Linked DNA regions of Homo sapiens: regions 2, 3, 4 and 5 are each linked to region 1. The links come from fine-mapping of genetic effects on gene expression. A gene starts in region 1. Each other region holds a variant in brackets. All regions are shown on one strand. Distances are between the middles of the regions.

Region 1 (6,152 bases):
AAACCTCATCTCTACTAAAAATACAAAAATTAGCTGGGTGTGGTGGCAGGTGCCTGTAATCCCAGCTACTCGGGAGGCTGAGGCAGGAGAATTACTTGAACTGGGAGGCGGAGGTTGCAGTGAGCCAAGATAGCACCGTTGAACTCCAGCCTAGTTGACAGAGCAAGATTCCGTCTCAAAAAAAAAAAAAAAATTTAAAAAATTAAATAAAGGGTTTATTGTGAGAAAGATAACAAATCAGTGGCTGCTGAGGGTGGCACCCTTTGCCTGGTCTGCAGCCTTGCCCGCCCCCCCCGCGCCATAGGCCCTGGCAGCATACACCTCCCCCACACCCATTTGTAGGGTGCCCAAGGGCCCCCCAGACTCCACACTGACCTCAGCCCTCTTCAGCATCTCCCACTTGTGCAGCATTTTCATGGCAAAAATCTGCCCAGTGTCCCTCTGCCTCACCACGGTGACCTAAGGCCACAGGGAGGACCGGGGTGAGCCCAGCCCGGTGTGAACACCTCCCCCCACCTACCCCAGGCCCTTTGCTCACCTCCCCAAAGGCTCCTCGGCCGATCACCTTCAAGATCTCAAAGTCATCTCTCTGCAGACGCAGTTCTTTCACCTTTGATACGAAGGGGCTGGCTGAGGGGACACAGGGCGGGACTCAGAGTGCAGGGAGGGAGGGCTCCATTCCCCCTCTCACCTTGGGCAAGCCAGGAGCTGCCGCTCCTGTGAGCCCAGGCAGGGATGACCTCCCCAGGGACAGCCTCGGGCCAAGGGGTTGTGGCAGGAACTGGTGCTCCTTTGGCCATGATCAGGAAGTGCGGAAGGTCAGAGGCCGGGCTCAGCTGACCGCCTGGTCCCTGGACCTCCCTGGACCCCTGGCCCCAGACTCTAGGCAGCCTCCATCCCAGGGGCTGATGGGACTTGTAGTCCTGCCCAGTCTGCGGCCTGACTCTGCTTGGCCAGGTCACCCTGGGGACCATGGGGACACCATTCCTACCCCCACCTCACAGTTCTTGGCCCCCTCACAGGTTCAGGCCAGGGCCTGTCTTAGGAAACTGGACGGGTGACATTCCTTATCCCCAGAGAGGCTTCTCTCCCATTCAGGAGCTGTGGGCCTGGGTCCCGGGACCCTGTAGGCATAGAGGTGCCTGGTTGGGGGTGAGGCCTGCAGCCCCTAGGGCAGGGAGGACAGGCTCTATGCTTCCCACGTGGGGCCCCTCAGGCTGGAGGCATGGATGCCAGTCTGCCAAGGTGCTGAGACTCACAAACAGGACAAAGATGCCTTTCCCTGGTGCTAGCACTAGCCCCTGAAGGCGTGAGTGCTCAGGATGCCTCCAGGCCTGACCGGCTCTCTCACTCCCAGCCCTGCCTCCCTGTCTGGACGAAGCTTTTGTCTGGTCAAGAACGTCCTCTTTCCTCACATCCCAGATACCTCCAGGAAGGGCAACTCCAGCCACTCCCAGGCACTTTCCAGGCCTGGATTAGCCCCAGGTTTTGGGAAGGAATTGGGTCTTAGGGAGGCAGGAGTGATCAGTCAGGATGGGGGGCAGCTGTGGTCTGGCGCCCTGCCTCAGTTTCCCCCTGCCAGGAGGTAAACTCCCTGCCAGCTGGGCGGGTCTGTGGGTGGGACAGAGAGCTGTTCCACAGGTTTATCAGGCAGAAGCCCGCAGCGGGGGCGGGGTGGAAACCTCATTACAGAAATTCATTGTCTCTTTCCCAGGTCTGTGTGTGGAGCTGGGGAGGAGCAGCCCCGGGCCTCCCCGTGGGAGTTGAAGCCAGCACCATAGGGACCCACCCGCCAGAAGAGGGCCGAAGCCCAGGCCCACAGGCAGGAGGATCCAGGCCCCTGGACAGGCTGCCTAATCCTCTGGCCTCCCACAGGGCATGGGGGCTCCGGGCAGGAGCAGGGACAAGTAGAGACAAGCAGGAGAGGAATGAGTCACAGCCCTTTGAGTTACCTTGGGAGATTGTCAACAGAGGGCCCCCATGCCGGGGTCCCAGGCAGAGGTGCTGGAGGCAGTCAGGGAGGAGCACACATGTGTGTGCAAACACACACACGTGTGTGGGTGTCATGGGGGGGGTGACAACAACACAGGCAGACAGGCATAGCACGGAGGCATACCAGGGAGACAGGCACAGAGGCAGGGGCCTCTGACTGCCTCGCCCTGGATGGAAGGGTTGGGGCTAGGGGACAACTCCCTGGCACATCTAGGTGGCAGCCTCCCCCTCTACCCCAGGCCTTGTGCCTTCCCAGAGCTCAGGAGTGCCAGGAACGCTAGTTGCCCACTGGGCAAACACCTGCCTCACCCCGCCCTGGCCAGGCCCCCGTGCCTTTTCCCCATGGCCCGGCAGGGTGTGACCAGGGAACCCTCCAGCTGGCGCCAGTGCCCACAGTGGGTTCAGGGTCACCCCGGGCCAGCCACTCCCAATGACTCAGATGAGTCTACCAGGAAAGGTACAGACCCATCTCCAGCTAGGCCCCCCTCCCCGGCCCCGGCGCCACAGCCCCCAAGGAGCTTGGCCAGCAGCCTGCACAGGCCAAGGGTTGGAGATCGGTTCCTGAGTCCAGGCTGCAGTGGTCTTGTACCCAGGGAGCTGGGGGTGTGTGTGTTGGTGGGGGGAAGGTCTGCAAGTGTGCGATACCTACAGATCTGTGTGTTTTGCAGTGCCAATGCGGTCGGGGTGGTCTGCAGCGCTCCCTGGGTCTCTCCATGAGTTGTGTGTCTCAATGCATCCGAGAGGAAGGAGAAACAGAGCCCGTGTATCAGTGGGTGACATGCATGAGGGTCTGTGTGTGTCCTGCGTCAGGTGTGGCCTGTAAGCAAGGAAATCTGTAAGGGACTCTAGGCGGTGCACTGGGTACATGCGTCTGCGGTCGATACCTGAGCACAAGTTGGTATGTGTGTGCATGTGTCGGGGTCTGTGAGAGGGAGAGAGCGTGTGTGAGAATTGGAGTGAGGGTGAGGTGTGCAGGCGAGTGTGCGGGCCGCGGGGGTCCGGTGGTACGCGTCAGGGCCACTGCAGGGAGTCTGCGAGGGAAGCCCGTGGGGGTGCGGGTCCCTGCGGGAAAGTCTGCGGGTGCGGGGGTCTCGGCGCGATATCCCTAGGCCCGCCCCCGCTCCGTGCCGCCCCGCCACTCACCCCAGCTCAGGAACTGCGCCACGCTGCGCTCCCGCCGTAGGGGGCCGCTGCTGAGCTCGTGGTGCAGCGCCAGCAGCAGATCTAGGAGGCCGTCGAGCCCCGGGCAGCCGCCGGCCTCGCCCCGCGCCAGCTGCTCCAGCGCGCGCAGCCGCCGCTCCATGGCTGCGGCCGGAGCCTCGCTGCTCGGCTACAGTCTGGCCGCCCGCATGCCCGCCTGTCGGGCCGTCCGTCCGCCCAACCGTCTGAGGCTCTGTCCGCGCGTCCTCCCCCGCCCCTCTCCCGCCCTCCCCGCTGTCACCTTCCTCCGCCGCCGCCAGCGCGCCCTCACCTGGGCGCCGCGCCCCGCCCCCCGACGGACGGGCAGGTGCGCGCCGGCCAATGGGAGCCGCGGCTAGAGGTGAAGGTGGGGGCGGAGGCGCGCGGGGGCGGGCCCAACTCCCGGCCAGGAAGTGCGGGGGCGGGCCGGGGAGAACAACTGACTTCTGCGCGGGGCGCGGTGGGGTTCTGCGGGGTCGGAAAGACTCCCCAGATCCCCGCGCGGCCCCAGACCCAGACTTACCTGGGCCCTCCCTGGGCCCTGACCCAGGAGGCGCGGAGCACTGCAACTTCTCTCGCCCCCTGGGTCGCAGCCGCCTTGCCCTTGGCTAAGAGAGAGGGGCTAGGGACGCCCGCGGCCCCGGAGCCGGATGGGAATTGTAGTTCGCTCTCTCCATGGTTTGCCCGCGCTTGGCACCCATCGCCCCCCCGCCCCCGCCCAAAAAAAAGTTTCTGAATCTTACTTTGATTGTATCATTAGAGTTGATGTGGGAGACAGGAAGTTGGGGTAGGGATGGTCACGCCCATTTGGCAGATGGACACACTGAGGCTTGGGAAGGAGGAAGGCGAATTGAGGGGCTGAGGACAAGGTGGCTCTTAAGTTAGACCCTGGGGTGGAGGTGGAGCTGGGCTGGTACCAACACCACAGGCGTTTTAAGCTTCAGTAGGAGCAGGGCCTGAGGTCTGACCTGGAACGTGAAGGGCAAGGAGAGGTCTGAGATAGGCTGGAGGAGGTTGGGGAGGGGAGGGGCTGGCTCTGTCCAGTGGTATTTCTGATTTCTGTCCAGCTGGGATGGACCAGGCACCATGAGGAGAGATCAAAGGGTGGGACATATTGGTGGCTTCAGACAACACTTTTTTTTTTTTTTTTTTGAGACAGGGTCTCTCTGTCACCCATGCTGGAGTGCAGTGATGCAATCATAACTCACTGCAGCCTTGACCTCTTAGGCTCCTGCCTCAGCCTCTTGAGTAGCTGGGATTACAGGCAGATGCCACCACACCCAGCTGATTTTTTATTTTACTTTTTGGAGTCAAGGGTTATTGTTATGTTGACCAGGCTGGTCTCGAACTCCTGGGCTCAGGTAATCCTCCCACCTTGGCCTCCCGGAGTTCTGGGATTACAGACATGGGCAACTACACCCGGCCTAGACAACACTTCTTTCTCTTTTTTGAGACAGGGTCTCACTCTGTCCCCTAGGCTGGAGTGCAGTGGTGCAATCGTAGCTCACCACAGCCTCAACCTCCTGGGTTCAAGTGATCCTCCCACCTCAGCCTCCCGAATAGCTGAGACTACAGGCTCACACCACTAGGCCAGGCTGATGTTTTGTTTTTTGAGATGGTGTCTCACGCTGTCACCCAGGCCAGAGTGCAGTGGCACGATCTCGGCTCACTGCAACCTCTGCCTCCCAGGTTCAAGAGAGTCTCCTGCCTCAGCCTCCCAAGTAGCTGGGATTATAGGCATGTGCCACCACACCCAGCTAATTTTTGTATTTTTAGTAGAGATAGGGTTTTGCCATGTTGGCCAGGCTGATCTCAAACTCCTGACTTCAGGTGATCCTTCTGCCTCGGCCTCCCAAAGTGCTGGGATTACATGCGTGAGTCACTGGGCCCAGCCATGTTTGTATTTTTTATAGAGATGGGGTTTCGCCATGTTGCCTAGGCTGATCTCAAACTCCTGGACTCAAGTGATCTGCCTGCCTCAGCCTCCCAAAGCGCTGGGATTACAGGCTGTAGCCACTGGCCAACACATTATTTCATTAAAAGACCTGTTTAGGGGTTTGCCTCTCCTCTCGTACTGGGACCTCGCTGAGATGGGGGCAGGATCAGGTTGAGGGAGGAGGTGTTCCATGAATGTTTGAAGCAAACAGGGTGTTTCTCCCCACGAAGGGTTTTTCATGTGATTATTTGTTTATTTATTTATTTATTTTAAAGAGACAGGGTTGCACTATATTGCCACGTTGGCCAAGCTGGTCTGACCTCAGGTGATCCGCCCACCTCGGCCTCCCAAAGTGCTGGGATTACAGGCATGAGCCACCATACCCAGCCTTTTTTTGAGACAGGGTCTTGCTCTGTCACCCAGGCTGGAGTGCAGTGATGCAATCTCAGCTCACTGCAGCCTCAACATACTGGGCTCAAGTGATCCTCCCACCTCAGCCTCCTGAGTAGCTGGGACCGCAAGCCTGCACCACCACGCCTGGTTAATTTTTAATTTTTTTTTTAGAGCTGGGGTCTCTCTACATTGCCCGGGGCTGGTCTCAGACTCGCCCTGCCTCCCATGTGATCTCCCCAGAGGCCCGCCCTGTAGCTACGCAGGGCCCATGGGCTGAGAAATGTTTGGGGAAACAGAGTCTGGGTGTATTACCTAAATCAACCAGAATGGGATGGGGAGCCAGGATTCAAACCAAACTCTGGGGATCCCCTTCATTGCCTCTGGTCTCCTGGAAGGGGGAGGGGGCAGGAGTTCAGATCCCTCTCACCTGAGAGATTCTGAGCCCTCCTTATAGGGGCGGGGCAGGGGTGGAGCCCACAGGAGGTAGGAAGGGGCTTGCTCACTGAGGCCACACGGGGGCGCCAGAGACCAGAGGAGGGACAGGCGCTCCAGCCAGCATTAGGGAACCGGAGATAGGGAAGGGCTCCTGGGTGGGAAGATGGGCCTCTCCTCCGCTGCCCCTCGTGGACACCCCTGGTGAGGCCTCTGGGCC
Region 2 (6,152 bases), 830 kb after region 1:
TCAAATTATTCGTCTTTGGTTAGGGAGAACTTCTTCAAGTTGGTTGTTCTTCAGTCCTTTTGACACAATTCCAATATATGAGTCTTGGTGGCTCATACCTGTAATCCCAGCACTTTGGAAGGCTGAATGGGGAAGACTGATTGAGGCCAGGAGTTTAAGACCAGCCTGGTCAACATGGCAAGATCCCTATGTCTATTAAAAAAATAATTTTAAAAAAGCAATTACAGTAGCCTGTGATAGCTTCTTTGCTGTTTGGTATGAAAAGATATTTCTTTTCTTTTTCCTTTTTTTTTTTTGAGATGGAGTTTCGCTCTTACTGCCCAGGCTGGAGTGCAATGGTGCAATCTCGGCTCACTGCAACCTCTGCCTCCCGGGTGCAAGCAATTCTCCTGCCTCAGCCTCCCAAGTAGCTGGGATTATGGGAGTGTGCCACCACGCCCAGCTAATTTTTGTATTTTTAGTAGAGATGGGGTTTCCATATTGGTCAGGTTGGTCTCGAACTCCTGACCTCAGGTGATCCACCTGCCTTGGCCTCCCACAGTGCTGGGATTACAGGCATGAGCCACAGCGCCTGGCCTGAAAAGATATTTCTAGACTCATCTAGTAAATTTTCTGCCCCAGATCTGGAATCAGACAGCTTTCCAAGGAGTCCTGATTTCTCTTAGTAGGAAATGATATTTAAAGACTACAGCTTGAGTACTTCGGATACTTATTGCTACTGAGTCAGTCATTGTAGATGTTTTCGGTGAATAGTTAGTACTTTTTTTTTTTTTTTTTTTTTTTGAGACAGAGTTTCACTCTTGTTGCCCAGGCTGGAGTGCAATGGCATGATCTTGGCTCACTGCAACCTCCGCCTCCCGGGTTCAAGTGATTCTCCTGCCTCAGCCTCCCGAGTTGCTGGGATTACAGGCATGCGCTACCACGCCCGGCTAATTTTGTATTGTTAGTAAAGACAGGGTTTCTCCATGTTGGTCAGGCTGGTCTCCAACTCCTGACCTCAAGTGACCTGCCCGCCTCGGCCTCCCAAAGTGTTGGAATTACAGGCGTGAGCCACCATGCCCAGCCAGTAATTTTTTAAAAAATGGGAGTCTTGCTCTGTCATCCAGGCTGGATTGCAGTGGTGGTGTGATCATAGCCCATTGCAGGCTCGAACTCCTAGGCTCAAGTGATTCTCCCTCCTCAGGTCCCCCAGTAGCTGGGACTACAGGCACACACCACCATGCTCAGCTAATTTTTTATTTTTTAGTAGAGAAGAGGTCTCACTATGTTGCCCAGGCTCATCTTGTACTCCTGGGCTCTAGCACTCCTCTTGCCTCAGCTTCCCAAAGTGTTGGAATTACAGGCATGAGCCATTGTGCCCAGCCTAGCTGGTAATTTTTTTTTTTGAGATGGAGTCTTGCTCATTCGCCAGGCTGGAGTGCAGTGGCGCGATCTCGGCTCACTGCAACCTCTGCCTCCCAGGTTCAAGCAATTCCCCTGCCTCAGCCTGCTGAGTAGCTGGGACTACAGGCACGCGCCACCACACCCTGCTAATTTTTTTGTATTTTAGTAGAGACGGGGTTTCACCATGTTGGCCAGGATGGTCTCGATCTCCTGTCCTGACCTTGTCATCTGCCTGCCTTGGCCTCCCAAAGTGCTGGAATTACAGGCGTGAGCTACCGCACCTGGCTGTAATTTTTTTTAAATACGAAATGCATCAGGAGTTCATACTAATGTTTCATATTCAAATTTAGAATTATAGGGTTTTTAAATTTTATTTATTTATTATTATTATTTTTTTTTGAGATGGAGTCTTGCTCTGTTGCCCAGGCTCACTGTAACCTCTGCCTTGTGGGTTCAAGCAGTTCTCTGCCTCAGCCTCCTGAGTAGCTGGAATTACAGGCACCTGCCACAATGCCTGGCTAATTTTTATATTTTTAGTAGAGACGGGGTTTCACCATCTTGGCCAGGCTGGTTTTACACTCCTGACCTCGTGATCCACGTGCCTCAGCCTCCCAAAGTGCAGGGATTACGGGTGTGAGCCACCGCGCCCAGCTAGAATTACAGGGTTTTAACTTAACCTTAGTCACTTTACATGTTTCTCCCATGTCAAAAATCTTGATTTTCTTTTGAGGGAATAGAAAAGTCCACTCTTAAATTAAGTCCATATGGAGTCTCAAGGGACCCAAATAACCAAAACAATCTTAAAAAAAAGAAACAAAGGTGGAGGACTCATACTTCCTGATTTCAAAACTTACTACAAAGCTACAGTAATCAAAACAGTGTGATTCTAGCATAAAGACAGACATATAGGCCGGGCGTGGTGGCTCACGTCTGTAATCCCAGCACTTTGGGAGGCTGAGGCAGGAGTTCAAGACCAGCCTAACTAACATGGAGAAACCCCGTCTCTACTAAAAATACAAAATTAGCCGGGCATGGTGGCCCATGCCTGAAATTACAGCTACTTGGGAGGCTGAGGCAGGAGAATCGCTTGAACCCGGGAGGTGGAGATTGCAGTGAGCCGAGATTGAGCCATTACACTCCAGCCTGAGCAACAAGAGTGAAACTCTGTCTCCAAAAAAAATAAAGACAGACATATGACCAATTGTACAGAATAGGGAGCCCATAAAAATAAAACCTTTCCATATACGGCTGAATGATTTTCAACAAGGG[C/T]GCCAAGACCATTCACTGGGGGAAAGGACAATCTTTTCAACAAATGGTTTTGGGAAAATTGGGTATCCACATGCAAAAGAATGAAGTTGACCCTTACCTAACACTATATACAAAAATTAACTCAAAATGGTTCAAATGGCTGGACCTGGTGACTCACATCAGTAATTCCCGCACTTTGGGAAGCCAAGGCGGGAAGATCACTTGAGCCCAGGAGTTTGAAACCAGCCTGGTCAACATAGTGAGATCCTATCTCTACAAAAGAAAAAAAAAAAAAAGAAAAAAATTAGCTGGGCATGGTGGTGCATGCCTGTAGTCCCAGCTACTCAGGAGGTTGAGACGGATTGCTTGAGCCCAGGAGTTCGAGTTCACAGCAGTGAGCCATGCCACTGCACTCCAGCCTAAGCGACAGAGTGTGACGCTGTCTCAAAAAAATAAAGAACTGGGGCCGGGCGCGGTGGCTCACGCCTGTAATCCCAGCACTTTGGGAGGCTGAGGCGGGCGGATCACGAGGTCAGGAGATCGAGACCATCCTGGCTAAAACGGTGAAACCCTGTCTCTACTAAAAATACAAAAAAAAATTAGCCGGGCACGGTGGCAGGTGCCTGTAGTCCCAGCTAGTCAGGAGGCTGAGGCAGGAGAATGGCGTGAACCTGGGAGGTGGAGCTTGCAGTGAGCCGAGATCGCGCCACTGTACTCCAGCCTGGGCGACAAAGCGAGACTCTGTCTCAAAAAAAAAAATAAATAAAATAAAGAGCTAAAAAGGGACCAAATACCTAAATGTAGGACCTAAAACTATAAACTCAGAAAAAAACATAGTGCCCCATGTTTTTGATTGCTTATATGTTATTATTTACGTTTTTATTGTTTATATGTTATCATTTATGTTGTATAATATTCATGACATTGAATTTGGCAGTGATTTCTTGGATACAACATAAAAGCACAGACCACAAAAGAAAAAAATAAATTAGGCTTATAAAAATTAAAAACTTTTGTACATCAAATACAATATACTGAAGTAAAAAATCAACCCACAGAATGGTAGGAAATATTTCAAATTACATATCTGATAAGGATTAATACCTAGAACATATAAAGAACTAATAATAGGCCGGGCGCCGTGGCTCACGCCTGTAGTAATCCCAGCACTTTGGGAGGCCGAGGCGGGCGGATCACGAGATCAGGAGATCGAAACCATCCTGGCTAACACGGTGAAACCCCATCTCTACTAGAAATACAAAAAATTAGCCGGTCATGGTGGCGGGCACCTGTAGTCCCAGCTACTCGGGAGGCTGAGGCAGGAGAATGGTGTGAACCCGGGAGGCGGAGCTTGCAGTGAGCCGAGATCGCGCCACTGCACTCCAGCCTGGGCAACAGAACGAGACTCCATCTCAAAACAAAACAAAACAAAAAAACAACAAAAAAAAACACACAAAGAGATACCACTTCACACCCATTAGGATGGCTGTTATCAGAAAAATAAGGTAACAGCTGTTTGCTGAGAAATATGGAGATGTGGAGAACACGTGGAGAAATTGGCACACTTGTGAATTGCTGGTGGGAATGTAAAATGGTGCAGTCGCTCTGGAAAACAGTATGGCGGTTCCTCAAAAGAATTAAACCAGAATTAACACATGATCCAGAAATTTCATAGTACTCAAAACTACTGAAAGCAGGAACTCAAATTGATATCTGTACACCAGTGTTCATAGCGGCATTATTCACAATAGCCAAAAGGCGGAAACAACCCAAATGTCCATTGACGCATGACCAGTGTGATAGTTAATTTCATGTGTCAACTTGACCAGCCCAGGGAATACCCGGATAGCTGGTAGAAAATTATTTCTGGGTATGTCTGTGAGAGTGTTTCTGGAAGAGGTTAGTATTTGAATCAGACTGAGTAAAAGGATCCACCCTATCCAACATAGGTGGCCATCATCGAATCCACTGAGGGCGCAAATAGAACAAAAAGGTGAAGAAAAGGTGAATTCTCTCCTTTCTTGAGCTGGGACATCCAACTTCTCAGACATCAGAGCTCCTGGAGGCCTTCAGACTCCGAGACATTACACCATTGGCTCACCTGGTCCTCAGGTCTTTGGACTTGGAATGAATTACACCATTGGCTTTCCAGGTCTTCCAGCTTGCAGATGGCAGATTGTGGGACTTTTCAGCCTCCATAACTTTGTCATCCAATTCCCATAATAAATCGCCTCTTATATCTGTATCTGTTTGGTTCTGTTCTGGAGATCCCGGATTAATGCAAATGGATTAAAAAAATGCGGCCGGGCACGGTGGCTCATGCCTGTAATCCCAGCACTTTGGGAGGCCGAGGCAGGTGGATCACTTGAGGCCAGGAGTTCAAGACCAGCCTGGCCAACATGGTGAAACCCCACGAAACCCTGTCTCTACTAAAAAAAAAATACAAAATTAGCTGGGTGTGGTGGCGCACGCCTGTAATCCCAGCTACTTGGAGGGCTGAGGCAGGAGGATTGCGCGAACCCAGGAGACAGAGGTTGTAGTGAGCTGAGATCACACCACTGCACTCCAGCTTGGGTGACAGAGTGAGACTCCATCTCAAAAACAAAACAAAACAAAACCCCAAAATGTGGTATATACATGCAAGGGAATATTATTCAGCCTTAAGGAAGGGAATTCTGATACATGCTGTATTGAGGAGCCTTGAAGGCAACATGCTGAGTCAAAGAATCCAGACACAAAAGGACAAATGTTATATGATTCTACTTATGTGAGATACCTACAATAGTCAAATTCATAGAGAAAGGAAGTAGAATACCCATTACAAGAAGCTGGAGAGAAGGGGAAATGGTGAGTTAATGCTTAACAAATGCAGAGTTTATGTTGGGGATGATGAAAAGATTCTGGAGCAGGATGGTGGTGATTGATGGTAGCACACAGTGTGAATGTACTAAGTGCCATTCAGTGGCACACTTATAAATGGGTAACATGGTAGATTTTATGTTATATATATTTAACCACAATTTAAAAAATCTCAATTCTTTCTCTGTTTTTTTATTTAATTTTAGAAATGGGGTCTTGCTCTGTTGCCCAGGCTGATCTTGAACTCCTTGGCTCTGGGCTCAACCAGTCCTCCCACCTCAGCCTCCCAAAGTGCTGGGATTACAGATATGAGCTACTGCACCCAGCCTCAGTTCTCAGTGACACCAACCCATTACTCATTTGCTTTATCTCACACTGTATACAAAACAGTTTCAGAATAATGATACCAACTCTACCTCCATAATGATTTCTTTTTTCTTTTTTTATTTTTCATAAAACTTATGACTCAACATAATAAGATTTCTGAAAATATATTTTTGTAGTTCTTGTCCTTAGGTTATAGCCCACTAGGGATGATAGTCAGATAACTTTGTTTTGAATCTCTTTGAATAGTTAATCTCCATAAAGTTATACCAGCAAATTGATACATAGTTTTATTTTCCCTTTTTAGGAATTGCTTTTTAAAGTTTTATTTTTCTTCA
Region 3 (6,152 bases), 150 kb before region 1:
AAGGGGAAGGAGAGAAAGAAAGAAAGAAAAAAAGAAGAAGAAAAAAGAAAGAAAAGGGGAAAGAAACAAAGAAAACACGAGTCATCAAAATCAGCCAGAGAGAAGGGAGAAAAAAGCTTTTGCTGCCACAATTTAAAAACCTTTTTTAACTTGTGACAGACATCGGGGGGAGCCCCAGCCCAGGAGCTGAGGAGAGGGGCCCGATGCCGAAACAGCGGGTGGAGGGCACAACAGGGGAAGAGAGAAAGAGAGATTAGGGGCGTCAGAGAGGGTGAGAGGGGTACAGGCAGAACTGGAGGAAGGAGGGGGCGGGGGGCACTGCAGCGGGGAGAGGAGATTTTGGTTTCTTTTTTTCTTCTTGCCGGAAAAAAAAAAAGGAAAAGGAGGAGAAGCATTAGGCTAGGAGGGTTGCTTTTTCCTTTTTCTTTTTTTCTTTTTTTTTTTCTTCCGGGAGGCGGAGAGAAAAAAAAACAGTCAACGAGAAAAACGATTCAGATGGAGGAGAAAATAAAACACGACACAAAAATCAAAGCCACCTGGAGAGAGAGAGAGTGTCCTGTTAGCATGGGATTAAGCGGGCAAGGGGGCCTCCAACCCCCCAACACCCCTAATCCCAGTTACCCCTAGGATGCTGGTAGAAAAGGGGGAAAGATGGGGGGATATAAAGAACCTGGGCCTAAAAGCATCCCCCACTAAAGCGGGGTTTGGAAGGACACCTGTTGGGTTCTAATCCTCCCAGCTACCCTTCCCAATAACCTCTGTAGGGGTAGTAGGGACCCTGCACACCTGGGTTCTAAGAGGAAACTGGGGTTCAAGAGGACAAAATTAGAGAGGAAGCAGGTAGGAGAAGGTAGAATCTACAGAGACACTGAGAGACTGGGGTCAGAGCTCTCAGACAGCAAGGTCCAAAGAGGACAGCCGAGCCCTATGGGAGGAAGCCCAGCTCTCTGAAAGGTCCAAGTACATCATTCATAAATTACAGACCCCCTTTCTCTGACCAGGACCTCTCTCAAATGACCCAAAAGCTGGATTTTGAAAATAGAAAATGGACTGATAGGAAGACCAGCTAGGATTTCCATCCAGGATTACACTGGCCCCTTGAGACAGCCTTGTCAGCCCTAACCCAAAGTACCCCTCCCCAGCCTTAGTGGGAAGGAATCTGGCCCACTGGATCAGTACCCTTGTCCCCAACAGGCACCAGCCAAGGAAAGCTCTCTCCTAGAGAGGCTGGCAGCACCAGGCCCCACAGCTGGGCTGAGACCCCAGGGCTTCCTGAGATGGCCAGCCAGCTCCACCAAACCTCAGAGCCCCCCCAGCCCCACTCACTCCCCTGTGGTGTCTGGCCAAGAGGGTAGGAAGGGGAACAGCCCTGCAGTGCCACTGTCACCCTTGGAAACCAGCCCCACTGCTGTGGCAATGAGATGTGAACCCTAGGGATAGAAAGCTGGGGCCAGGATGGAAGTAGCAAGGTTAAAGAGTTACAAGTATTTCTGAGACGAAGCTGGGGGCCAGGATGCCTGGATTCTAAGAGGAAAGGCAGTGAGGAGGACAGGAAGGACATGGCCAGGGGCCAAAGGCCTGGACCCCGTGGCAGATGGTTCACATTGCCCTCTTTGCCCCATGTCTCTAGGGTGGCACTGGTTTCTCCCCACCTCTGAGTCTGAGGCCACTTGGAGGAGGAGGCCACAGCCGCTGAGGGCAGCCTCAGGACTGAACAGCTCTTGGGAGGATGTAGGTTTTTATCCATCACACAGGTAAGGACCCAAGCATTTGAACCGAGTCTCCTCATTCCTTACTCTGAATACCCTCCTACTCTGCCACCAACCCTTTCCCCAAAAACTACCAGCATCTCCTTCCAAACCCCCTAAACCCAGGACCCAGACCCAGAGCCCTCAACCCACATCCGACTCTCCCGGTCAGAAGCAGCCTTGCTCTCAGGATCCCACCCTTGAGAATCCAGGTCTCTGCCCACCCCCAGCCCAGGAGCCAGGTGCCCTGTGAACCCACCCTCTGTCTCCCACAGGCCTGACTGCTGCTGGAGGAAGCCACATCTCCCTCTCCCAGACCCTTCCACTGCCCAGCTCCTCGCCAGCCTCGTTAGCATTCGGCAGTCTCCCTCTGTCACCACGGCAACCAGCTGCTCAGCTCCCTCAGGCGTGACAGCACCAGCCATCTTGGTGAAGGGGAGGCTGGTTCCCTTCCTGTCTACCCCTGGCTCAGTCCCAGCTGGCCCCAGGGTTTTCTCCCTAAAGTCTGTCTCCCCACTAATCTGAAATCTCTGCTCCCTCCTCCTGGCCCCCAGCCCCACTGGGGTATTCACTTCCCCACATCCACCTGTGGCATCAGCCCCTCCTCCCACTGCTGGAAAAGAGACTGGCAATGATGGATGGCATTGCCATGGGTCCCTTCCTAGGGCACTTTATCTGGCTACTTCTGGGTCTCTTTGCCCTGCCACTAGAGGCTGGGAGGAAAAAGGAGGTGTTCGGCAGGGGTGCAGAGCAGGATCTTGGGGTTCCTGGAGAAAGCTAGGCCTCAGGCACAGTGTCAAGTGGGAAGAAGGCGAAGGTACAGAGGACTCCTTAGAGATATAAGGAGGGCTGCAGGGTCCAGAGCACAGTGCCACAGAGGAGGCCGCCAGCCCAGCCACGTGGAACCACCACCTGCTAAACCCACCTCCCCATCTTCAGTCTCATCCCCTAACTCTCCTACTGAAACCCCAGAGAGAACCACCATCGAAATAAAGATGGTGATAGGTGACCAAATTAAGAGACACACAAGCAGGCACACAGACATGTCTCAGAGTGACACAGAGATGTGTCAGACTCCTAGGTGTGTATACACACACGCGCACACACACACACACAGCCTCCA[A/G]TACACAGCCCTGCACAGCCACTGACATGCAGGCATCCACAGTGCCACATCTAAACCAGCAGACCACCATGCCACCCAAAGAAATGGCGAGGTGGCGTCCACAGGCCTCCTTCCCCATGGGTCCCCAAAGCCCAGCTTCCCTTCTTGTTCCTGTCTATCAGCCCCTTTCCTCTTCCCTACTCCCACCAGACTCCTTCTTCCCAAGTGCCCCCCTGCCTTTCTTCTTTTGGCCAAGCTGTTCCCCGTTCCTGCCCCACCCCCTACAGCTTGAGGCTTGAGTCTTTCTCTTCCCACCCTTCACTTACCCCCTCTCCTTCCTCCATCTCTCTGCTCCCTCCTTTTTTCTCTCCTCCACCCTTTTTTCCCTTTCTCTCTTCCTCCCTCCATCTCACCCTTTGTTCCGGAGGAGACATGACATCAAGAGCAAGTAAAAGTCACATCAACACTAAATCTTATCTCCAGCCCTCAGAAGGCTGCGTCCACCCAGACACGCAGACTCTCTCTGTGACACACACGCAGAGGTAAACACTGACACACGGAGATGCAAACACAGATGCAGACACACAAAGATGCTGATGCTCTACATAGGCATACAGAAATGTGGGCCACACCACATATGCATCGATGGAGGCGCACAGCACACCCATGCACTCAGACACAAAACCATGTTACGTGTACACAGCATATATCCTCAGGCGTGCACACAGACACACAGACCAGCAGAGTTGTATAAATGTATGTGTATGCAGACATACATACCCACACATACATACATACACACACACACACACACACACACACACACACACACCTGCCTGCTGGGCCCTGGGGACCTGAGGACCCCCAGGGAAAAGAGACATCCAAGAGAGACAAGTCAGACCATGGACATCACGAGGAAAAATGGGTTCCAGCCCCACACTCAGGCCAAGAGCCTCTTGCTGCCTTTCTTTCCCAGGACTACTGCATCCCTGGCACTTTCCTCTCCTCCTCCCCAGGGACGCCCTTGCCCTCCCACTCCACCTTCCCAGGAGAAGGGACTGGGATGCCACCTCATGCCTGCTCTGCTGCCTTCTTCATGGTAGCTATGTGAGCTCATCTTCAACACAGCCTTCAAGCCAGGACTACCTTCTTCCTGCTCTCAGTCCATCCCAGAGGAGGAGAAGAAACAGGGAAAGCCAAATTGCAAGAGAAAGATTCAGAGAATGACAGAAACCCAGAGAGAGCCTGGGGAAGGAGAGACACATGGTCCAGGGACAGAGTCTTGGAGAAAAGGAGGTAAAGACAGAAACTGGAGAGGGAGAAGAGGCCAACAAAACAGGAGATAAAGAAAGAACATACAGAGAGACCTGAGAGAGAGGCACACACCCCACCCTTGCCCTCCGACCTGGATGAAGGAAGAAGCAGCCCACCCCTACCTAGCAACCTGTGGGGCAGCAGCTAGGGGCCTGCCGCAAGTGGCAAGTGCTGGTCACAGTGGGGCAGAGAAGCTGCTCCCACTATACACCTCCAACCCCCTACTCTGCCAGTGCACTCCACCACCCTCCAGTCCCCTGAGCCCTGCACAGTGGCACCAGATTCCAGGGCAGATTTTCCCCAAGCACAGGTTTCTGGGGCAACAGCCCACCCCAGCCTGCCCCAGCATCTGGAAAATTGCCTTTCTAAGCTTCCTAACTTAGGCTGGGCTAAACGTTGTCTACCCACTCACTTCTGGGCACTTCGGAATCCTGTCAGCCCCATCCCTCCACCCCCACCGCTCATCTCTTCCCTAAGTTTCCCTTTCCCTCTCCAGCGTGGAGAGGGAAAGGAAGAAGAAAGGCCAGTCAGCAGCTCCCCCGAAACTCATGAAGAGGGGACGCAAGAGAGTGGGGCAAGGCAGCCAAGGGAGGACCCCAGACATCCTTCTCCGGAGAGGCCCTAAACATGGCAGGAAAGGGAGTCCTTGGGTAGCCAACGACAGTCCCTCATGTAGGATCCCCATGGCAACAGATCCACTACCCCAGTGACAGAGAGGCTTCACTCACCTTCCATGGGGTGCTCCTCTGCAGCCAGCGAGGTTCGGAGAAGACGGAGGCAGAGAGAGAAGAAAAAGGAGGGCTGTTAGCAAAGGTACCACGGACAGGGGCTCCAAGGGGAGAGAGGAGTCCAAGCCCACCCAGGCCCTGACATGAGTCACCCAATGTGGAAGGCCCAAATCTCAAGAAACAGCTATGTTGGGGATGAGGCAGACACAGAGCTGCTCCCTGAGTCAGAACCTCACACACAGTCAGCCAGTACCCATCACACCCAACCCTCAAGTAACATTTCAGGAAACCGAGGCCCAGGACAGGGAAGTAACCACTCAAGGTCACACAGAGAATCTGAGGCAGGGCCAGGAGTGGCAGTCAGGCTTCTCAACTTCCCCAGAGAGGCTCCTACCCTGCATTCCATTGCATCTCACAGACAGATGGGGACACACTCACACCACTAATTGTCTCACAGGGTTCACTAGAGACACACTCATGCTCAGTGACACACTGACACACATAGGCACTTAGCAATCCAGTGACACACACTGTCTCACACAATTCACATATAAAGCCCCTGCACACAGGACCCAACCACCTACGGCCCCTGACCCTCCCAGGGGTGAAAAGACATCAAGACACAGAGAGAACAAACATGATTCTGCCACACAGCACTGTGTGACTTTCATCCTATTCACTTAACCTCTCTGAGTCCCTACTGCCTCTTCTGCAAAATGAGAGGGGTGGACTGGATAGTTTCTGAGGCCTCTTCTGACTCTGATTCTGATTCTAGGACAAATGTCTTCTTAACATCTGGATGAGGCCAAGGGCCCCCAGGCTGGATGGCCATGCCAGTGGGGGAAGAGAGTCCAAATTCAGTGGGCCACACTGGGCCCAGACCTAGACCATGCCACATCCTTTGGATAGGCAGACCTCACCTATTAGGGCCCTGCCTGGATCTGGCCTTGGAGCTCACCAAATGGGTCAAGGGAGAAGATGGAACAACGAGAAGATGGAGACAATTCCTTCAACTAAGCTACAACTCCTCAAGCAGGTTGGGCTCTGATCTTCTTTGTAAGAGGATGGAGGTGCCCCCAGCTCCAAACATTTGCCATGTGCCCACCTCCTGGGAGCCTTTAGATGAAGCAATAGGCAGGAGGGGGAAAACAGCACAATCTACAAACACACAAACCCAGTGGGGAAACACATACTTGCATATGCAGGCCCCAGGATACACACTTATGTACACACAGCTATCCAGTTCACACTCACGCATGC
Region 4 (6,152 bases), 420 kb after region 1:
AGGAAAGCTAATTGCCTGAGCTGTCTGTGAAGCCAGGTGTCCTGCCTTGGAGTCCCGTGCTGCATCATACGGGTCCATCGTGTTGGTCAAGCTGTAGAGCAGTGTAAGGAGTCATTTGAAGCAAAGCCTGGGAGATGTGGAAGTTCTAGAATCGGTATGAATGTGCACCTGCCTTAACCACTCAACACTTTGAACTTCTTATATACAAAAAGATAACGAAACGTTAATTTATGGTGAGAAATTCCTTTCAGAAACCAGAATACTTCAAGTCTTCATGCCCAGTGCCTTCTCTCTCTCTCTTTTTTTTTTTTTTTTTTTTTGACAGTCTTGTTTTATCACCCAGGCTGGAGTGCAGTGGTGCAATCTCGGCTCACTTCAGCCTCCGCCTCCCAGGTTCAAGCGATTCTCCTGCCTCAGCCTCCCAAGTAGCTGGGATTACAGGCGCCCGCCACCAGGCCCGACTAATTTTTTTTTGTACTTTTAGTAGAGAAGGGGTTTCACCATGTAGGCCAGACTGCTCTCGAACTCCTGACCTCAAGTGATCCACCCACCTTGGCCTTCCAAAGTGCTGGGATTACAGGCATAAGCCAGCAGGCTCGGTCCTTCTCTTTTTAAAAGAAGACTAGCCAGGTGTGGTGGCTCACGCCTGTAATCCCAGCATTTTGGGAGGCCAAGGCAGGTGGATAATCTGAAGTCGAGAATTTGAGACCAGCCTGACCAACATGGAGAAACCCTGTCTCTACTAAAAATACAAAATTAGTCGGGCGTGGTGGCGCATGCCTGTAATCCCAGCTACTCAGGAGGCTGAGGCGGAAGAATCGCTTGAACATGAGAGGCAGAGGTTGTGGTGAGCCGAGATCACACCATTGCACTCTAGCCTGGGCAACAGGAGCGAGACTCTGTCTCAAAAAAAAAAAAAAGACTTAAGTGGAAAACCTGATCATAGTCAGAAATGTATGTGGTAAGCATGAAATCAGCATGAGAGAAATTAGTTATGTGAACCAGATTTGTAAAGGCTTCAGGCCAAGATGCCAGTTGCTTTCATCTCATGGCAATGGCTTTGGAATTGTGGACTTTGGATCATCAGTAACTTCAGTGGCACCTTAATGTTTCCTGACAGTCAACCGTATTTCCCTGTTTTTTTTGTTGTTGTTTGTTTTGTTTTTTGAGATGGAGTTTCTCATTGCCCAGGCTGGAGTGCAATGGTGCAATCTTGGCTCACTGCAACCTCTGCCTCCCGAGTTCAAGCGGTTCTCCTGCCTCAGCCTCCCGAGTAGCTGGGATTACAGGCTCCCGCCACCACGCCCGGCTAATTTTTTGTATTTTTAGTAGAGATGGGGTTTCGCCATGTTGGGCAGGCTGATCTCGAACCCCTGACCTCCAGTGATCCTCCCACCTCGGCCTCCCAAAGTGCTGGGATTATAGGTGTGAGCCACCACACCTGTTCTACTTTTTGTATTTTCAGTAGAGACAAGGTTTCACCATGTTGGCCAGGCTGGTCTTCAACTCCTGACCTCAGGTGATCCGCCCACCCTGGCCTCCCAAAGTGCTGGGATTACACTGCGCCAGGCCCCTGGTCTCTTTACTCTGAGTCTTCCAGATGATTGTTTTCCACCTTCTCCTGTAACATCCTTCTGTCCCACCCTCACTCTCAGCTGACAAATTTCTATTATTTGCTGAAAAATGTAGAAGCATTAGAAAACTTCGATCAGCTACCACCATTATGTCTCACTGACCCATATCTGTGGCATATACCTAGCCTTCTTTCCTATTATAATGAATAAGCTTTCCGTATTCCTAGCAAAATCCAAGTCCTCCACTTGAGTCCTAAACCCCATTCCTTCTGAAGCAATTAAGGACATCACTGGTAATTCTCCTGTCTTACATATTTTCTATTTTCCTTGCTACAAGATTTTTTTCCTACTAGTATAGAAATGTGCTTCCAATCTTGCCTTTAAAATACTCTGTTGACCCTACTTCCCACTCCAGTTCTCTCCTTCCCAATTACAGCAGACCTCAAAAGGGTCGGCCGGGTGCGGTGGCTCACGCCTGTAATCCGAGCACTTTGGGAGGCGGAGGAGGGCGGATCACAAGGTCAAGAGATGGAGACCATCCTGGCCAACGTGGTGAAACCCGGTCTCTACTTAAAATACAAAAATTAGCTGGGCATGGTGGCGCATGCCTGTAGTCCCAGCTACTTGGGAGGCTGAGACAGGAGAATCGCTTGAATCGGGGAGGTGGAGGTTGCAATGAGCCGAGATCGTGCCACTGCATTCCAGCCTGGCAACAGAGTGCAACTCTGTCTCCAAAAAAAAAAGGGGGGGGGCCTTGCCATCTTTAAATATTTCCTCCTTAAATCCATTTCAGTAAGTTCTTTTGTTGCCACCACTTCACCAAAGCTGCTCTACTCAAGGTCACCAGTGACCTTCACCATGCTAAAACCAGTGATGAATTTTCAGTCCTCATCTTGAATTGAATTAGCACCGGCACTTGACACTGTTTGTCATTTTTTCTTTTTTTAAACACATTTTTCTTTTAGCTTCTTAGACACTACTAGTTTTTCTTTCTTTTTTTTCTGAGACAGGGTCTTGCTCTGTTGCCCAGGCTGGAGTATAATGGGCAAATCACAGCTCACTGCAGCCTCAACCTCCTTGGCTCAAGCAATCCTTCCACCTCAGCCCCCAAGTAGCTGTAACTACAGGCACATGCCACCAAGCCCACCTAATTGTTGTATTTTTTATAGAAACGGTTTCACCCT[G/A]TTGCCCAAGCTGGTCTCAAACTTCTGGGTTCAAACAGTCTGCCCACCTCAACCTCACAAAATACTGGATTACAGGCGTGAGCCACTGCATCCGGCTTACTCCTAGTTTTTCTTCAGCTTTGCTTGTGTCACCGCTTCTCAGGCTTTGCCGATTCATCCTCAGAGGCCCTAAGGCGCCCCAAGACTCAAGCCTGGGATCTTTTCTCCCTTCTAGATACGCTCACTCCCTTGGCGATCTCACCTGGGGTCTCATAGCTTTATATCCCATGTATTTACTGATGGTTCCCAAATTTATACCTCCGCCCACAACCCTTGCCTGAACTACAGGCTGGTTTGTTCAGCCTGCTGTCTCCAGTTGGATGTCTAAATGGCACCTCAAACTCTGCATGTCTAAAACTAAGCTCCTGGTATCTCCTCTCTCTCCTCAGAGTAGTTCCTCTGGCTCTTTTCCCCATCTCAGTTAATAGGGACGCCACTCTTCCTGTTGCACAGGCTAAAAATATCAGCATCATCCTTGACTTTCTTTTTCTCATACCTTACATTCAGTTAGCAGATCCCACTGGCTTCACTTCCAGCATGTAAAGTCCTATCCAGAGTCCAGCCACTTCTCGCCATCTCCACTGCCACCACCTTGATCCAAGCCACCATCATCTCTCACCTGGGCTTTTCCATGATTCTTTAATTGGTCCCCCTGATTCTGCCCTTATCCTCTTTTGTCTCCCCTCAGTGGTGAGCTTTGTAAGGACAAGGATGCTTCTGTTTTCTCATTGCCCAAAACAGTGCCTGGCACTAATAGATTCTGAATAAACATTGATGGAGTAAACCAGGATTATTTTTGCTTTTCTAGGTGAAACTTCGAGAAATGAACTAAGTTTTTACTTGTCCAATTTTCCTTTCTACAGTGGTAGAGCTTTGTGTTCAGTATGGACAGAATGAGGAGGGAATGGTAGGCGAGCTTATAGCCTTCTGCACCAGCACACATAAAGTTGGCCTTACCTCAGAGATCCTGAACTCTTTTGAGCATGAGGTAAGAACAAAATGAAAGCAAACTAATAATGTGATTCTCCATTTCTGCTCTACAGGGGAGGCATTGTGATATATTGAGAGGAGTGTGGGCTTTCGAGTCAGGCCTGGATTCCAGTCCCAGTGTGAGCTTGGACAAACTATGTCCCTGAGCCTCAGTTTCCTTTTCTGACATTGGGTCTAATAATCTGTATTTTTTATGATTGTTATAAGAATTAAATGGGGCTGGGCGCCGTGGCTCATGCCCATAATCCCAGAACTTTGGGAGGCCGAGGCAGGCAGATCACAAGGTCAGGAGTTCAAGACCAGCCTGGCCAACGTGGTGAAACCCTGTCTCTACTAAAAATACAAAAATTAGTTGGGCATGGTGGCAGGCGCCTGTAATCCCAGGTACTCGGAAAGCTGAGGAAGGAGAATCGCTTGAACCGAGGAGGTGGAGGTTGCAGTGAGCTGAGATTGCGCCACTGCACTCCAGCCTGGGACAGAGCGAGACTCCATCTCAAAAAAAAAAGAAATGAGAATGGACATAAAGCACTTAAAACTATGCCCAGCAGGTGATAAGTCTTCACCAAATAATTGGTATTATTAGGATTGTTATATGTTATAGACAGTCATGGGATGTCTTTGTTTTTAGTCTGTGTGTATCTTAATTCTTTGAGGAATGTTAGATCTTTGATTATATTTTGAATACCTTTTATTATCTCAAGGCTTTTGAAAACACCTCTGCTATTACTTGACTATGAAGTACTGTATTCACTATCTTTTCTTTTTCAGTTTCTGAGCAAAAGATTATCGAAAGCCAGGCATAGTACCTGCAAGGACAGTGGCCATGCAGGAGCTAGAGACATTGTTTCCATTCAAGAGCTGTATCCTTTTCTGCTGAAGGTCTTTGCACCAAGCTACATGTTGTATTTTATAATTTGTCTGTAGTCGCATGTGTAATTTAAAAACAAATAATAAGGCCGGGCACGGTGGCTCAGGCCTGTAATCCCAGCACTTTTGGAGGCCGAGGCAAGCAGATCACTTGAGCCCAGGAATTTGTGACCAACCTGGGCAACATGGTGAAACCCTGTCTCTATCAAAAGTACAAATTTTTTTTTTTTTTTGAGTTGGAGTTTCGCTCTTTTTGCCCAGGCTGAAGTGCAATGGTGCAATCTCAGCTCACTGCAACCTCTGCCTCCCAATCTCAAGTGATTCTCCTGCCTCAGCCTCCTGAGTAGCTGGGATTACAGGTGCACACCACCACACCTGGATAATTTTGTATTTTTTTTGGTAGAGACAGGGTTTCACCATGTTGGCCAGCTGGTCTCGAACTCCTGACCTCAGGTGATCCGCCTGCCTAGGCCTCCCAAAGTCCTGGGATTACAGGCGTGAGTCACCGTGCCCGGCCAAAGTACAAATTAAAAAATAATAATAATAAGCTGGGTGTGGTGATGTACGCCTGTAGATCCAGCTAGTTGGTAGGCTGAGGTGAGAAAATCTCTTGAACCTGGGATGTGGAAGTTGCAGTAATCTGAGATCAGGCCACTGCACTCCATCCTGGACGACGAGGAAACCCCATCTCAATAATAATAATAGTAAAAATTGCCTAATATTGAGATTTCTTCTAGCAATCAGCCCTTGCCTTATATGAAAGTTTATTATTATTATTATTATTTTTTTTTTTTGAGATGGAGTCTCGCTGTGTCGCCCATGCTGGAGTGCAGTGGTGTGATCTCAGCTCACTGCAAGCTCCGTCTCCTGGGTTCATGCCATTCTCCTGCCTCAGCCTCCCGAGTAGCTGGGACTACAGGCGCCCGGCTAATTTTTTGTATTTTTTTTAGTAGAGACGGGGTTTCACTGTGTTAGCCAGGATGGTCTCTGTCTCCTGATCTCGTGATCCGCCCATCTCGGCCTCCCAAAGTGCTGGGATTACAGGCATGAGCTACCGTGCCCAGCCATTATTGTTTTTCTTAACCAGTGTTCTTAGAATTGAAGTGGAAGAAGAAGAGGAAATCCTCTTGAACTCTTACACCACACCTTCAAAGGTAAGTAAACAGTGTTTGGACATTGCATTTTACAAGTAACATTTTAAAATAGTTTCACAACATTTGAAGATCTGAGGGAAAAAATCAACCACTCTCATGCATTTCCTACTATATTTCCACTTATACATCTTCCTTTCTGATCATATGTCTAAATGTTTTACATAATGGCAGTCCTTATAAACATATAGTTATCCTGCTTTTCTCAGCACAACATAAAACATTTCTATAAACATAATTTCTCCATAATTGCCCTTTTTGAATAGTTTCATAGTTTTATACTATAATTGAATAATTCAGTTCTGTGTTGGATCCCAGTGTGAAAGGTCAAGTAGGGTAGTGGAAAA
Region 5 (6,152 bases), 630 kb after region 1:
TGCTCATGACTCTCCCTGACGCAGGTTCCCGACACACCGGGTGACTCAGCTGCAGTGTTTTTCACAGTCCGTGATGCGTCACAGCTATTTATAGGTGTGCTTAACTCCCTGTGAGGAAGCACTTCAACCCCCAAACGCAAGTTCCAGAAATATGCTCATAAAGATAAAGATAGAGAAAAGCTCTGGAAAAATACACAGTGCTGTTGCTTCAGGCAGAGTCCGTGTGTGTGTGTGTGTGTGTGTGTGTGTGTGTGTGTGTGTGCTTTCACTTTTTGCCTCATACATCTCATTGTTTATAAAATTTATCAATATTACAAAGTTGTAAACAAGGTTATTTAAAAACAACAAATTGGCTGGGCACGGTGGCTCACGCCTGTAATCCCAGCACTTTGGGAGGCCGAGGCAGGCGGATCACCTGAGGTCAGGAGTTTGAGACCAACCTGGCCAACATAGTGAAACTCCATCTCTACTAAAAATACAAAAAATTAGCCGGGCATGGTAGCAGGCGCCTGTAATCCCAGCTACTCGGGAGGCTGAAGCAGGAGAATCGCCTGAATCTGGGAGGCGGAGGTTGGAGTGAGTTGAGATCATGCCATTGCACTCCAGCTTAGGCAACAAGAGCGAAACTCTGTCTCAAAAAAAAAAAAAATTATAAATTTCTACACAAAGTCTTGCACATTCCTTTAATTTATTCATAGGTATTTTATAGTTTGTGTTGCCATGTTAGCAGTTACAAAGTGGCTGGGCACAGTGGCTCACACCTGTAATCCCAGCACTTGGGGAGGCCGAGGCGGGTGGATCACAAGGTCAGCAGTTCGAGACCATCCTGGCCAACATGGTGAAATCCCATCTCTTCTAAAATACAAAAAATTAGCCGGGTGTGGTGGTGCACACCTGTAGTCCCAGCTACTTAGGAGGCTGAGGCAGGGGAATTGCTTGAACCCAGGAGGCGGAGGTTGCAGTGAGCCGAGATTGCATCACTGCACTCCAGCATGGTGACAAAGCAAGACTGTTTCAAAAAACAAAAACCAAAAAACCAAAAAACAAAAAGAGTGAGGTCCCCCTGAGTCACATAGCAAGACCCCATCTCTACACAAAATATTTAAAAATTAGCCAGGCATGGTGGTTCGTGCCTGTGGTCTCAGTTACTTGGGAGGCTGAGGCAGAAGGATTGCTTGAGCTCAGGAGGTTGAGGCTTCAGTGAGCCAGGATGGTGTCACTGCATTCCAGCCTGGGAGAGACAGCGAGACCCTGTTTTTGTTGTTGTTTTTTTCTTTTTTAAAGAAAATAAACACCAAAACAATAAAAAGAGTGAGGTAGGTAGGACTCATGTCCCAAAATAGTTCTCCCTTTTTAGTTTTTTAATTTTTAATTTTTAAAGAAAGTTTCATTCTGTTGCCCAGGCTGGGGGGGTGGGGTAGTGGCATAATCGTAGCTCACTGTAACCTGAAACTCCTGTGTTCAAGGGATCCTCCTGCCTCATGCTCCTGAGTAGCTAGGACTACAGGCCCACGTCACCATGCCCAGCTAATTTTTATTTTTATTTTTTGAGATGGAGTCTCACTCTGTCGCCCAGGCTGGAGTGCAATGGCGTGATCTCCACTCATTGCAACCTCCGTCTCCCAGGTTCAAGTGATTCTCCTGCCTCAGCTTCCCGAGTAGCTGGGATTACAGGCGCCTGCCACCACGCCTGGCTAATTTTTGTATTTTTAGTAGAGATGGGGTTTCACCATGTTGGCCAGGCTGGTCTTGAACTTCTGACCTCAGGCAATCTGCCTGCCTCGGCCTCCCAAAGTGCTGGGATTACAGGTGTGAGCCACCGCGCCCGGCCAATTTTTTTTAAATGTCTTGGCAAGATGGAGTCTTCCTATGCTGCCTAGGCTGTTCTTGAACCATTAAAATGATGTATTTCAATTATGTATATACTATTTATACATATATTAGGATATATCTACATGTGTGTGATATGAATATATATACACATTCACAAGCACATTATAAATGTTTGTATGTGTATATATACATACATAGTCATGTACTGAATAATGACATGTCCATCAATGATGGACCACATATGTGACAGTGGTCCCATATACTACCATTTTTTTTGTTTTGTTTTTTGTTTTTGTGAGACAGGGTCTGGTTCTGTCACCTGGGGTGGAGTGGAATGGGGCATCTCTGCTCAGTGCAACCTCTGCCTCCCGAGCTCAAGCAATCCTCCCACCTCAGCCTCCCCATTAGCTGGGACCACAGGTGCATGCCACCACACCTGGCTAATTATTGTATTTTTAGTAGAGACAGGGTTTTGCCATGTTGGCCAGGCTAGTCTCAAACTCCTGACCTCAAGTGATCTGCCCACCTCGGCCTCCCAAAGTGCTGGGATTACAGGTGTGAGCCACCGTGACTGGCCAGTAGTCAACTTTACAACAGGCCTAGGATGGGAGGTGATTGTCCAACCAACTTTAACTTTACTGTTTGAATTTTAAAAGAAAATACCCATGTACTTGGGTATTATTTGTTTGTTTGTTTTTGAGACGGAGTCTGCCTCTGTCACTCAGGCGAGAGTGCAGTGGTGTGATCTCGGCTCACTGCAAGATCTCTGCCTCCTGGGTTCAAGCGATTCTCCTTCCTCAGCCTCCCAAGTAGCTGGAATTACAGGCGCCCACCACCACACCTGGCTAATTTTTGTATTTTTAGTGGAGACAGGGTTTCACTGTGTTGGCCGGGCTGGTCTTGAACTCCTGACCTCAGGTGATCC[A/AC]CCCCCCCTCAGCCTCCCAAAGTGCTAGGATTGCAGGTGTGAGCAACCACACCCAGCTGTACTTGGGTATTATTAAAAAAATAATAAGTCACAGGATGGAGCCAGGAAGCCTGAGGCAGGTGAACCTATGAGGCAAATGTCACGTGCAACAAAGTGTAATTGGCTCTGGCAGCCAAAACCAATTGGACATCTTGGTGAGACAGTCTCCAAATGTGTCACAGGATATAATTTCCAAAGTTATAAACATGACTGTCTTTAATGTATGTACCAAAGGTTACTTCAGGTGTTAAGAAACTATAATGGTGGAAACACTAGTTCAAAGGGAACTGGAGAGACTGAAATACTCAGAGGCACTGAAAAAGCAATGCTGGAATAAGATTGCTGAGTTACATCCAAAAGTACCTGCTGCGCTGCAGGGTAATAAGCCCATTATCTTGGGTCATCTTTTCTACCTGACAGAAGCTAGCTATATCTTATCAATCTACTCATCAGAGCCCAGCCTCATCAATGGTGAATAAGTCAGAGAGGTGCCATGCCTAGAGAATCCCAAAGGTCATCCTATGGCCACCTTTTCGGACTGGTCTTCATTTTGCCTTTTCAAATTTTTTTTTTTTTTTTGAGATGGAGTCTCGCTCTGTTGCCCAGGCTGGAGTGCAGTGGCGTGATCTCAGCTCACTGCAAGCTCCGCCTCCCGGGTTCACACCATTCTCCTGCCTCAGCCTCCCGAATAGCTGGGACTACAGGCGCCAGCCACCATGCCCAGCTAATTTTTTTGTATTTTTAGTAGAGACGGGCTTTCACTGTTAGCCAGGATGGTCTCGATCTCCTTACCTTGTGATCCATCCGCCTCGGCCTCCCAAAGTGCTGGGATTACAGACATGAGCCACCGCGCCCGGCCCACGCCCGGCTATTTTTTTTGTATTTTTAGTAGAGACGGGTTTCACCATGTTAGCCAGGATGGTCTCGATCTCCTGAGCTCGTGATCCACCCGCCACAGCCTCCCAAAGTGCTGGGATTACAGGCGTGAGCCAACGCGCCCGGCCAATATGTTTTTCTTAATGGAGGAGTATCCGCAGGGCGCGGTGGCTCATGCCTGTAATCCCAGCACTTTGGGAGGCCAAGGCAGGTGGATCACGAGGTCAGGAGATCGAGATCCTGGCCAACATGGTGAAATCCCATCTCTACTAAAAATACAAAAATTAGCTGGGCGTGGTGGCACATGCCTGTACTCCCAGCTACTTGGGAGGCTGCGGCAGGAGAATCGCTTGAACCCAGGAGGCGGAGGTTGCAGTGAGCCGAGATCGCGCCTCTGCACTCCAGCCTGGGCGACAGAGCAAGACTCCGTCTCAAAAAAACAAAAACAACAACAAGAAAAAGAGGTGTGTTATTTAACCTTTTCTTAGAAGCTTCTCTGCTGCCCCCAATCTTTCTCAGCAATCCTAAGCCTTGCTCCAGTTACTGGTTAGAGCTGGGCCAATAGTGGTCTGACCACACGTGGTGGCAGCATTCTGAGCTCTGAGGAGACAACCTGGGCTCTTGTCTTGAGGCCTAAACTGGGCCTGAGAGAGCAGGAACAAATCTGCCCTCTCCCTAAGCTCAGGGAGTCCACAGCGGGACCCTCACACCCAGTCTAAGGAGACCACTGGGCAGAGCTGAGATCTTAAGGACAAGCTGGAGTTCCCTCAGTTTTGGGAAAGGAGTTCTGGGGTGAGCGAGGAACATCAGGAGAAGCTGGAACAGAGAGGGGCAGCCAAGTCCTGAAGGGCCTGCTGTAACCCAAGAGAGAGGCCTGGCTTTATCCAGCAAGGCCAGGGTGCGGTCGGAGCAAAGGTTGTTTTATTAAAAGCTTCCTATGGCTGGAGCCCAGGAGTTCGAGGTTACAGTGAGCTATGATCACACTACTGCACTCCGGCCTGGGCAACAGAGCCAGACCCTGTGTTTAAAAAAAATCCTAAAAAGCCACAAAACTTCCTGAATGCAGACAATGTAGGGGTTCAAGGAGCTAGGGAGTACAGCGGAGACAGTGTTTGAACAGGCCCAGGCCTGGGCAGGTGGCTGCCTTGGATGCCCGAAGGGAAAAACAGAACAAAATCAGGAGGAATTGGAGCCTAAGTGAGGGAGCAGAGGATGAAGGGCGAGAAGGGGGCATGGGGCTGACAAAGCCGGGGTGGCAGCCCGTCCCACCCCACTCAGTGTGGGTTCCCGCGGTCTGTTCGGCGCAGCCACAGGGTCCTCCCACCACCCTCGCGGCCCTTCGCCAGCCCAGATACCGTTTTCCCGACTTTGGAACGGAGACCACAACACCCGCCCCGGAACTACTGAAGGCTCAAGTTAGGTCAACCCGGCAGGAAACCGGTTCCCAAATCCCAAGGCGGACCCAGGCCCGCGGTTCCCTCCCTCAAGGCTGGAACAGCGCGCAGTGGCCACCGCCGCCGGGTCTCCAGCCCCCAGGAGCGCGGCCTCCTCCCGGACTCTCTCCGATGCGGTCCTGCCCTGGGGACACGGCAGGAAGAAGGGACCTGGCTGGGGGACGTGGCCCCGGCGCGGGGGCAGGGGAGGCAGCGCGGGACTCCCAGCGGCCCCTGCGCGGGTGCCCACCCGCCGTCACGTGACACGCCGGGCGCTGAGTCACCGGGAAGCATCTGGCTGGGCGGCCGGGATTGGCCAATCTGCGGGACCGTCTGGAGCGGAAGGGCGGTGGTAGCTGGCCCTGCTTCTCCCTCCCCAGGATCTCTGCACTGGCCTTACGAACTGGGGAGTCCAAGGGGTTCCAGGACGGGAAGGGGAGTTTGAGACCAGCCTGGGCAACCTGGCCAGACCCGGTCTCTATTAAAAATACGCAAAACACACACACCACACACCCCACCCCACACAGCCCACACACCCCACACGGCCAGCAGCCCTTTCTGTCACCGACTCCGTTCCCCTGGCCAGTGAGCTCTCCGTCCCCTTTTCCTCCCTTTTCGCACACGTGCCTTTCCTGCCTGCTCCCACCTGGTGCCTGAGGCGTCTCTGCGCCTCAGCACTGGCTGTTCGGTTTGCACTACGGAGGGCAGTGTAGGTTTGAAAAGGAAAGTTTCATTATATAGAACACTACCAAGGCAGGGCGCGGTGGCTCACGCCTGCAATCCCAGCACTTTGGGAGACCGAGGCGGGTGGATCACTTGGGGACAGTAGTTCAAGACCAGCCTGGCCAACATGGTGAAACCCTGTCTCTACTAAAAATACAAAAATTAGCTGGGAGTGGTGACACTTGCCTGTAGTCCCAGCTACTTGGGAGGCTGAGGCAGGAGAATCGCTTGAACCCAGGAGGCAGAGGTTGCAGTGAGCCGAGATCCGGCCACTGCACTCCAGCCTGGGAGACAGAGTGAGGCAAGACTCCATCTCAAAAAAA

Direction of the effects. Positions count from the first base shown, and alleles are read on the strand shown. Sizes are in standard deviations (SD) of each study's normalised expression. Not every link is listed here.
As copies of G replace A in region 4, the expression in esophagus mucosa of the gene that starts at base 3,379 in region 1 goes down (moderate effect, 0.66 SD a copy in GTEx).

Evidence for each region. PIP is the estimated chance that this variant, and not a neighbour inherited with it, causes the effect.
Region 2: its variant is fine-mapped to the expression of CDC42BPG in whole blood (TOPMed, PIP above 0.99).
Region 3: its variant is fine-mapped to the expression of CDC42BPG in whole blood (TOPMed, PIP above 0.99).
Region 4: its variant is fine-mapped to the expression of CDC42BPG in esophagus mucosa (GTEx, PIP 0.93).
Region 5: its variant is fine-mapped to the expression of CDC42BPG in subcutaneous fat (GTEx, PIP 0.98).

What each region holds. Positions count from the first base shown.
Region 1 is chr11:64,841,275-64,847,426 of GRCh38, forward strand. CDC42BPG (CDC42 binding protein kinase gamma) reads right to left here and starts at 3,379. Exons shown (of 37, transcript NM_017525.3): 1 at 3,136-3,379; 2 at 539-630; 3 at 376-459. The coding sequence starts at 3,295. RefSeq lists enhancers at 417-1,229, 1,723-2,017, 2,042-2,854 and silencers at 3,069-3,118, 3,149-3,198, 3,209-3,558, 5,875-5,964.
Region 2 is chr11:65,666,843-65,672,994 of GRCh38, forward strand. It overlaps RELA-DT (RELA divergent transcript), which reads left to right. Exons shown (of 4, transcript NR_183625.1): 4 at 4,581-4,876. Among named protein-coding and RNA genes, the nearest start is that of RELA-DT, 6.9 kb to the left of the region's middle. The variant C/T (reference allele first, on the strand shown) is at 2,653.
Region 3 is chr11:64,692,883-64,699,034 of GRCh38, forward strand. It overlaps NRXN2 (neurexin 2), which reads right to left. Exons shown (of 23, transcript NM_015080.4): 3 at 4,893-4,910. Among named protein-coding and RNA genes, the nearest start is that of NRXN2, 27 kb to the right of the region's middle. The variant A/G (reference allele first, on the strand shown) is at 2,872.
Region 4 is chr11:65,262,922-65,269,073 of GRCh38, forward strand. It overlaps POLA2 (DNA polymerase alpha 2, accessory subunit), which reads left to right. Exons shown (of 18, transcript NM_002689.4): 2 at 3,661-3,785; 3 at 4,556-4,647; 4 at 5,751-5,808. Among named protein-coding and RNA genes, the nearest start is that of POLA2, 4.0 kb to the left of the region's middle. The variant G/A (reference allele first, on the strand shown) is at 2,759.
Region 5 is chr11:65,472,205-65,478,356 of GRCh38, forward strand. ENEMAL (enhancer lncRNA neighbor of NEAT1 and MALAT1) reads right to left here and starts at 5,283. Exons shown (of 1, transcript NR_186313.1): 1 at 4,573-5,283. RefSeq lists a cis regulatory region at 1-304, enhancers at 1-35, 5,076-5,671, 5,507-5,596 and a silencer at 5,207-5,336. The variant A/AC (reference allele first, on the strand shown) is at 2,759.